Linked DNA regions of Homo sapiens: region 2 is linked to region 1. Evidence: fine-mapped expression QTL. A gene starts in region 1. The other region holds a variant in brackets. All regions are shown on one strand. Distances are between the middles of the regions. Region 1 holds the start of UNC13C (unc-13 homolog C). Region 2 overlaps UNC13C (unc-13 homolog C).

What was found. PIP is the estimated chance that this variant, and not a neighbour inherited with it, causes the effect. A credible set is the group of variants that fine-mapping cannot tell apart.
Region 2: its variant is the best candidate, but not a certain one, in a credible set for the expression of UNC13C in cerebellum (GTEx, PIP 0.83).

What each region holds. Positions count from the first base shown.
Region 1 is chr15:53,976,030-53,980,437 of GRCh38, reverse strand. It overlaps UNC13C (unc-13 homolog C), which reads right to left and starts at 1,997. Exons shown (of 33, transcript NM_001080534.3): 1 at 1,511-1,997. It overlaps LOC124903495 (a long non-coding RNA gene), which reads left to right. Exons shown (of 2, transcript XR_007064646.1): 2 at 2,893-3,088.
Region 2 is chr15:54,625,965-54,630,372 of GRCh38, reverse strand. It overlaps UNC13C (unc-13 homolog C), which reads right to left. Exons shown (of 33, transcript NM_001080534.3): 33 at 1,768-3,545. The coding sequence ends at 3,260. Among named protein-coding and RNA genes, the nearest start is that of RSL24D1, 570 kb to the left of the region's middle. The variant A/TACTTA (reference allele first, on the strand shown) is at 1,961.

The DNA of each region.
Region 1 (4,408 bases):
CATAAGCTTCTTTATACAAGATGTCAACATAGAAGAAACACACAATGTTTTTCACTCCCTACTAACAAACATAAACTTAATACTTTGCTCATTTTCTAAATCACTCCTCTGGTATCAAGAATTGCCTATACTTACCATATTTTGACATTGTTGTTGTTATAGTCATGCGTGGAATTTTAAAACAAATGATTTCCTCATTTTGTTTACGGCCTAAGTGCTCCAGATAGCTACCATTTGGCAAAAATGAGGTTTATAGTTTTCAAAGAGCAGGGTGGTGATTTACTTTACAGTATGCATAAATGACAATTTAAAGCCCACTTACCTCTATTGCATTTGAACTTTTTAATCATAAGAAAGTGGGAACAACAATAATTAAAAGCCAGGGTCCTAGAGCTTTGGCATTAACTCTGTGTTAACACTAAAAATCTATTAAATATTTTATATATACAAAAATGTAGTACTTTCTCATTCTCGTTTCTCCCCTCCAGAAAATCTCATTTAATATAGACATATGCACATTTAATTTATTGACAATTTAACCCACTTTTATGAAAAGTATTGATGAGCAAAAGGTGGTAAGATGATTTTCTAAAAATCATTAAGTTTTTTATTAATTTCAAAATTATATAAACTTACAATTTTAGCTTCTTAAAGAAATGCAGAGTATTTTAAAACTAATCTTTATAAGCATTACCCACCCTCAAACCTCTTTCCTGTTTTTCCTTAAAAGCCTAACGAGGAAAATTGATTTTTAAGTGTTGTCATCTCCGTCTAGGTACTAAAGACAGCCAACATTACTATTGTTGTATATCTGTCTTACTCTTGATGATACAAGTATATTGATGATGTAATTGCAGAAGTTAGGGTTTACTCATGCTGTTGGACCAAAGGGATTTTTTTAGACTGCCTCCTTGAGCACCACAGAACAGTTGTAAAACAGAACCAAGCACACAATTTAAGCAATTCATCTCTTGAAAGTAAATCTGCAGGATCTTCTTCTTGAAGAACTGATGAAGAGCTAGAAATAAAAAAATCATTGGTAAAGCTTCTTTTGCTTCAGACTGGATGCTGAGCTGGAAAAACACTTGGGTGACACACTAGTGTATGACATCTTGGCTTTTAACCCTTTCCTAGAAGCCCTCAACTTTTGTTCTCTGTTGAGCTCTATTTTTTTCTTCCAAAATTCCGAGGGGTTATGGAATATCCCAGCCTTTCATCTCAACCCTATTTGTCCCTATGTAGATATTCTCCTGAAAGTTGACTGGAAACTAAGCAGTCATTTATCATTCTGAATTCTTTTTTTAAAAGCAATGACTGAGAAGTCATGATGCTCCATAGAATCATGTACATTATAAAAACAGGAGAGCCGAGATTTTACAAATATATCTGCTACGCTAAGAGAACCCCATGGTTGTGATTTCCAAGTGCAAACAAAAAGAAGGGACAGGAAAATACAGACAGAAAATCGCATGCAGATGAAGCAGTGCGTGCAACGGAGGAAAGAACATACCTGAGGAATTCTCCTTTAAAAAAAAATGTGCACGCCAACTGGGTTGTTCTTCCCCTCCTTTTGGAGTGTATGTGTTTTCCTTTTAGGAACACCACTTGCAATTGTGTTTCTAGTCTCGTTTCCTTTTTTCAATCACAAATAGTTAGAACAGGAGTGGAAGCTGCGTCCCAGGGATCCGACTCGTGCAATCAGGCATGCCTTGGTCTGCAACGGTGTCTGTTCTTTTCTTGTCAATTCTATCGCACTCCCGGGTAGCCTCCGAAGCAATTCTACAACTTAGCTGCTGGCAAGAAACTGCCTTTCACTCTTCTCATTGCCAAATACCTTCCGCGGCTCATTTCTCATCTCTTTCTCCCAGAAAGCAAAATGGGATCTCTCCCGTGTGTTGAGGAGCGCCCAGGCTCATCAACATTTGAGGGTGAGGAGCAGCCGGGCTGAGTGCGTGCTGGGAACTTCACACATCGCCGGCTGCGGCTGAGTCTTTTCTGAATGCAGCACCGGCACTGCGATCCCCAGCCTCCTCCACCGAGAGCGCCCGGGCTCCCTCTCCTGCCGCCGTAGCACGGCGTAGCTCCGAGAGGGTGAGCTACAGCCCCTGCTCACAGGAGACGCACTGTAGCCACTGCCAGGTGTGGCCTTCACCACCGCACTGACAACTAACTGTGTGGGACACAGCTTCATCGCTGGGAGACGCCTGAATGCCAGAGCTTCCTCAGCCTATCTTCCCTTTATCGCTGGATGATGACCTAGGAGACAGTCATGGCCAATTCTGCCAGTGGAATAGCGTGGATAATACTAAATTACCCATGTTATTCAACAATGACTGTTTTAGATGTACTTGACTGTACTTGGAATTATGAAAGTATACCGCACACAGTATCATTCCCTATTAGCCACCAAATGCAGCTAACAGGACCCTGTATTTAAATAGAGGAGATACTGATATCCCATCCCAGTTGGTTTTTCCTCTTATTTTTGTGGAAAACCATTTGAAGGTGATTCCTGAACAATTTCAATTAATGACACATGCATAAATCAAAGTGGGAAATGATGGGTAACTTACAGTGATGCAAAGGTTTTTCTTCTCACTTAGGAATAATGTCTTTTCATTTGATGTTAACATTTTAAAGATCTGGCTGGGAATTGAATGGACTTGCTTTCTCTTTTAGTTTTGCTGAGTAGAGGAGGTGGGGGGAGTAACAGTTCCCACTTTCCATCAATAAAGCATTTTCAATCCTCTAATCCTCCTGTTGAAACAAATAAAAAAGTACTGAATCTTAAAATACAGCCTTAAAGCAGCTTGAGGCCTGAAATAATTTGGAGGTTTTAAGCTACATCTGCTCTACTGCTTACTTAAAATTTTACTTTTCTTTGCTTTTTAGAAAATGGAAGGATATTTCCAGGACTGAAGAACGTCAACTAGCAGCTGTGGTTAAACAGTATAGGAAGCATATATACAGATTTGTATGGCATTTTTCAGTACATGGAGGGATGAATATGTCTTGACTGACATTAGAATTGACTCCACCTAAATATTCAATAATAATAGTTGCCATCAAAATAAACAGTTAAACCGGATATAGCATTTTGTGGCAAAACTTGTGGCAAAACATTTCACCTACCGTATGTGACAACCAATAAATAACCTCTCCATGATGTTTAAAAAAGTGTCCCCAAATGTGACACAATATATATGTTGGGTACTAGCAGCTGAGCCCTCCCCATTCCCAGCTATCAGCCCCACCTTTAATTCAGAGCAGCACAGCTTCCCTTACCCGCTGCTTAAGTGACTGTTAATGGACCTGAGCAGCTGCTCAAGGTCTAATGATCTGCATCAGGGGCAAGTACCAGGGCAGTCTTATTCCTGCCTTCACTCATCACGGGAGTGGCAGGCAGGACAAAGCTCTGCTGCCCCCGGCTGTAACACTGGAGAGTAGCACAGGAAAACCGGTTAGACCTAGAAGCACCTGATAGGGCGAAACTTGACTTTTTTATACAGAAAAACTCATGCTAGCCAATACACTATTTTGAAGAACGTGTTTTAATACATAGAGAAAAGAACACCTATTCACTGAATCTGTTTTCACTTTTTGGTGTGAAATAACCACTGCAAAGTACAGAAGCTGTGGTCAGCTGAGAGACCCTAGCACCCAGAATAAGGTAAATGTGCATACGTCTTCAGTAAATTTGGATTTAATGTCAGTGATGTAAATGTTTAAACCTACAGAAGGAAATAAATGAAAGATGATTCTAACCATGAGCGGTCTATAAAACATGTATGTAGGAAAATTAGCCAGACTTGGTGGCGGGTGCCTGTAATCCCAGCTACTCAGGAGGCTGAGGCAGTAGAATCACTTGAACCTGGAAGGCGGAGGTTGTAGTGAGCCAAGATCGCGCCATTGCACTCCAGCCTGGGCGACAGAGCAAGACTGAAAAAAAAAAAAAAAAAAGAGAGAGAGAGAGAGAGAGAAAGAAGAAAAAAAAACACCATGTATGTAGTGCCATGAAAAGTTTGAAAATATTGCTCTAATTCAAATATTCTCGTAGAGGAAATGAATCACACCAGGGGTGGTAATCATTAGTTTTTATTGGAAAGAAGAAATAATGTTTCATGAATGCTTCGATGCCAGCATGTGTGTTTTAATGAATGCAGTGCTAAGCTCTAATAATCAGGATTCTGGTCATATATTTCAAAATGGAAATTGTTTACATCTCTGAAAGTGGCAGGAAACATGTATGTGAGGGACTCTGGCTGCTAATAAAATATGTTGCCGTTAGAGTGACAGAGCTTTATGACTTTATTGACCTGCAGGGACATCAAAATCCCTAGTAGAAATGTTTTGGCTTTTGACGAGTAGTTTTCACTACTGAGTACCTGATTTGAATAATGTGTAATTA
Region 2 (4,408 bases), 650 kb before region 1:
ACATTAAGTTAGAATTGTCATTTATAAATGTGCCTCATTTAAGATAAATTCAAGTTATAAATTATCCTAGAAGTAGATAAATTAGCGCAGGTTGTAGTGGGGACATCTGATTACTTAATGCATTCAAATTCCTTCGAATAGCAAATACTCCACTCTGGGTTTAAATACTTTGTGTTTGCTAAATTTGATTTACACGTGTATCTTTAAAGACCTGTAATGTGAGGTTTATCCATAGACAAGCAACAGAGCTTTGCCTTTGTGTGTTTTATCTAGAATAAGATGAATAAATTGCTACACACATTAGTGCAACACTCAATTGACAGAGATCACTGGGAACCTTAGAGTGACTACTAATTTGGGTAAGTAAATATAACAGGCTTTGTTCTGAAGACAACGGGAATACTTGTGCTTTGAGAGGAAAACAGAGTCTACAGAATTTATAATCATTTCAAAATTAGTACCTGTACTTTATGATAGTCATAAATAGACTTAATTCACCCTGCCACTATTAGGCTTTGATATATATTGTATACATTGTAAAAGACAGAATAATTGGATGCAATTAAACATGTCAGGGAAAAAATACCTTGCTCAATTTAAAGTGATCAATGCAAATCCTAACTGCCTTTTACTCAAATGTATCATGTATTATGACATTAATATGTGCTCCTAAAGAGCTTAAGTCAATGTTCTGTAAAATATTTATAACATAAATCTAGAATGAATTTTTCAAGTAATTGATGAAAACTTTTATCATGTGAGATTTTTAACCATGTTGCATGTTGAATTTTGTTCATGGGACTAAACGGTATTTAGCAATATATAGGTAGATACATTAGTTCATCCTTATTTTCCTCGTCATTACAATATACAGTGGTTTCCATGAACACACCACCTGTGGAATGAATTTTAACATCTGAACTTTTTTTTAAAAACTTTTATTTTAGATTCAGGGGTTCATGTCCAGGTTTATTACGTAGGTAAATTGTGTGTCACGGGGGTTTTGGTGTAGATTATTTTGTCACCCAGGTAGTAAGCTTCGTAGCGTGACAGATACTTTTTCTTATCTTTTCCCTCCTCCTACCCTCAAGTAGGCCACAGTGTCTGTTGTTGCCCCCTTAGTGTCCATGTGTCCTCATCGTTTAGCTTCCACTTGTGATAACAAACATGTAGTATTTCGTTTTCTATTCCTGTGTTAGTTTGCTTCAGGTAATGGCCTCCAGCTCCATCCATGTCACTGTGAAGGACATGGTCTCATTCTTTTTATGCCTGCATAGTATTCCACGGTGTATATGTACCACATTTTCTTTATCTGGTCTACTGTTGATGGGCATTTAGGATGGTTCCATGTGTTTGCTATTGTGAATAGTGCTGCAGTGGACATATACGTGCATATGTGTTTATGGTAGAATGTTTGTTTGATATTCCTTTGGCTGTGTACTCAGTAATGGGATTGCTTAGTCGAATGGTAATTCTGTTTGTAGGTCTTTGAGGAATCACCACACTGCTTTCTACAATAATTGAAGTAATTTACACTCCCACCAGCAGTGTATAAACAAACAAACATTTTTCTTCACAACCTCGCCAGCATCTGTTATTTTTTGACTTTTTAATAATAACCATTCTGACATCTAAACTTTTAATGAGATGTTAGAACCAAATAATATGAAGACTATTACATATGGTCAAAAGAGCCTGGAGTTTTTATTCCTAAATGAGATGATATTGCATAAATGAAATAAAAAGGCAGAAGATACAATACAATGCTGCATGTGCTCAATATACATCCATTTATTAAAGCATATGCCAGAGGATCGCATCACACTATGCATTTAGAGGAGTCATTAACAAAGCAGTGGCCTAACAGTTTAACATGAATTAGCTCACCTCACTGGTCTGTGATTTCATACTCAGTTGCAGAATGGTTCTGACAGTCATGATACTAAGCACTTCTGTACTT[A/TACTTA]ACGTATTAGATCAGCTTGTTCACAAAGCACAATCATAACAGGCTCTTGTTTCTGCTTCTGTAAGTAGTCCACTAACAGTTATGACCATAAGTTATAATTACAAAGTACTGTTTTACAGCCATATATTTTGGCATAGACTCTAAAAAGTCAAATCATAACAATACAGAAAATGCACATATTCATAAACTGTTTTATATTCAAAAACCAACTTAGCTATATTTTTAGGTACCAAGCTGTATTACATTGTTCTCCTACTGCATTTGATGCATTTGGGGCTTATAAATACAAATTACAAAATTTTAAGCAATTTCTTCCGACTTAATTTTACTATTTTTTCACTAAGTGGATGAAAACATGACTTTTGGCATCAGTACAATATATAGTAATGCTGCATTCAATACTAATCATTGAATATTTTTAAAAATAAAGCATTGAACTGATTATAGAGTCATAACTGTCAGAGGGAAGATATTAACAATATAGTTACTTACAGGTATTTTCAGTAAACTTTCCATCCCATTTCTAAACCATTAATGACTTTTTAAAGAATGAAATATGGTAAAGCCAAGACATAACACTATATGACAAATGCATTAACTTACCATTTTTACAAATGTGATGTGATCTTGGCAGTTTTAGAGAACAAAGTTTTGTCAATATATATCAAACATTGTTAACAAACTCTAGCATTGCTTTATGTAAGTTTGCTTTAACAGCATTTCTTCACAGTGATATTTCAGAAAGGTTGGAAACTGGTCAGCAGAAAATATTTCCCACCTTTTCTATTTTAATGTGTATGCAAAAATCACAATATCTGCGACTATAAAATTACAAATGCTTTCTAGAAGTGACTGCATTTCTAGTTATGGTAGAAAAGGGTATTTGTAAGACATCTATAATGAGGTAAGTAAATAAAATGGAAATTGAGTAATAAATGTTTTCTGATCTATGGGCAATATAATCTCATTTAACAAAGACAACTGATGGGCAAACTCAAAAGACTAGTTTTTAAAAATTATGTTTAATGAATGTGAAATGGGTAAAGAAACAAAATAAACATGTTAAAAGGTGTTCTTGATATTTCACTTTACATCATAATTTTGGCACTTCATGGAACACTGATTTCCCAAAGACCAGAATTGGTATAAAAGTTCAGCAGGTTTTTTACATACCTTGTAGACATCGTACATGAGTACTGGCAAACATTGAAATGTAGTGAACTAAACATTCCCATGTATTTGCACATGCATGCAGTAGTCAAACAATTATAGTTATGTATTTAGCTTGCAGTGTTTGTTTCAAGCACTCTCTTCAGTAGATCTTGTTTCAGATTTAAGTCTTACAAATTCTTTAGCCACATCATCACTGGTCCTCTGAGAGAGTATTCTAAGGATAGTCAAACCAGTTTCATCCATAGAGATATTTTTCAGAAGAGGATACCATGCCCCATAGCTTCCCTTTTCTGCTATGTTCTGTAGCTGAATGACTGTCATTCCGATAATTCGATCTTCTCTGGCAAAGCAGTAATCCTTAACTGAGAGATGAAGTTCATAAGCCCCTGGTCGATTTTCCTTTCCGAGAATGCTGTGTGGATTAAAAATACAAATTTTGAGCAAAAACTTTACTTCCACTAGGCATCATTATGGTTCTCAAATACTGCTGAAAACTGTATACATTGGATCTGATTATTATGTTGGCAAATAGGATATCAGTGTATTTTAACCCTTTAAATTTGGCTTAGAAAGCGAATGTTAAAATGACTTTTTCCCTAGATAGAAAAGACAGAAAAAAATGGGAATTAAGATACTATGTTACACTTAATCAGTCGAGGCAGAATCTCCTGATTGCGGGTGCGGTGGAGTTGGAAAGGGGTCATGGGGGCTAGGCCAGGGTAATGGGTACCTCTTGGTAGAATTTATATGCCATTTCAATATCAGTTACTACTCGCACTTTACCTCCCCATTTCAATATCAGTTACTACTCCTCGCACTTTACCTCCAAATCTTGAATAAGCTATTATATCTAGGAGTCTTTTCTCAGGGGAATACACTGCACAGCCCATCAAGCACTATTCACAATATGCTAAATTGGATACAAATCTCCATCCAGAGTAAATCAATTCCAGCAGAGCCTGGTGATTCAATGCCGATTCTTTCCTATGGTAACAGTTAGACCTGTCAAGTGTGTGGCCTCTCCTAACAACCACCTAAGACAGCTTGTTAGTGTCAACATAATAAAGAAGGCCAAGTGGTGATATGGTAGATACAGTCTGTCTTCCTCCACCCCTTATTTTTGTTCATTCTCATATTCTTGATTTTCTAATGAATGTACATCTAGCCCTCAGCAGTACCAGCTTCCAAATTCCTTCCTTTTACAGGTGATTTTTTTCTGATGAAACATTTTGATTTCCAGGAAACACTGGTAACTAAACTTTGTACTTTAGGGAG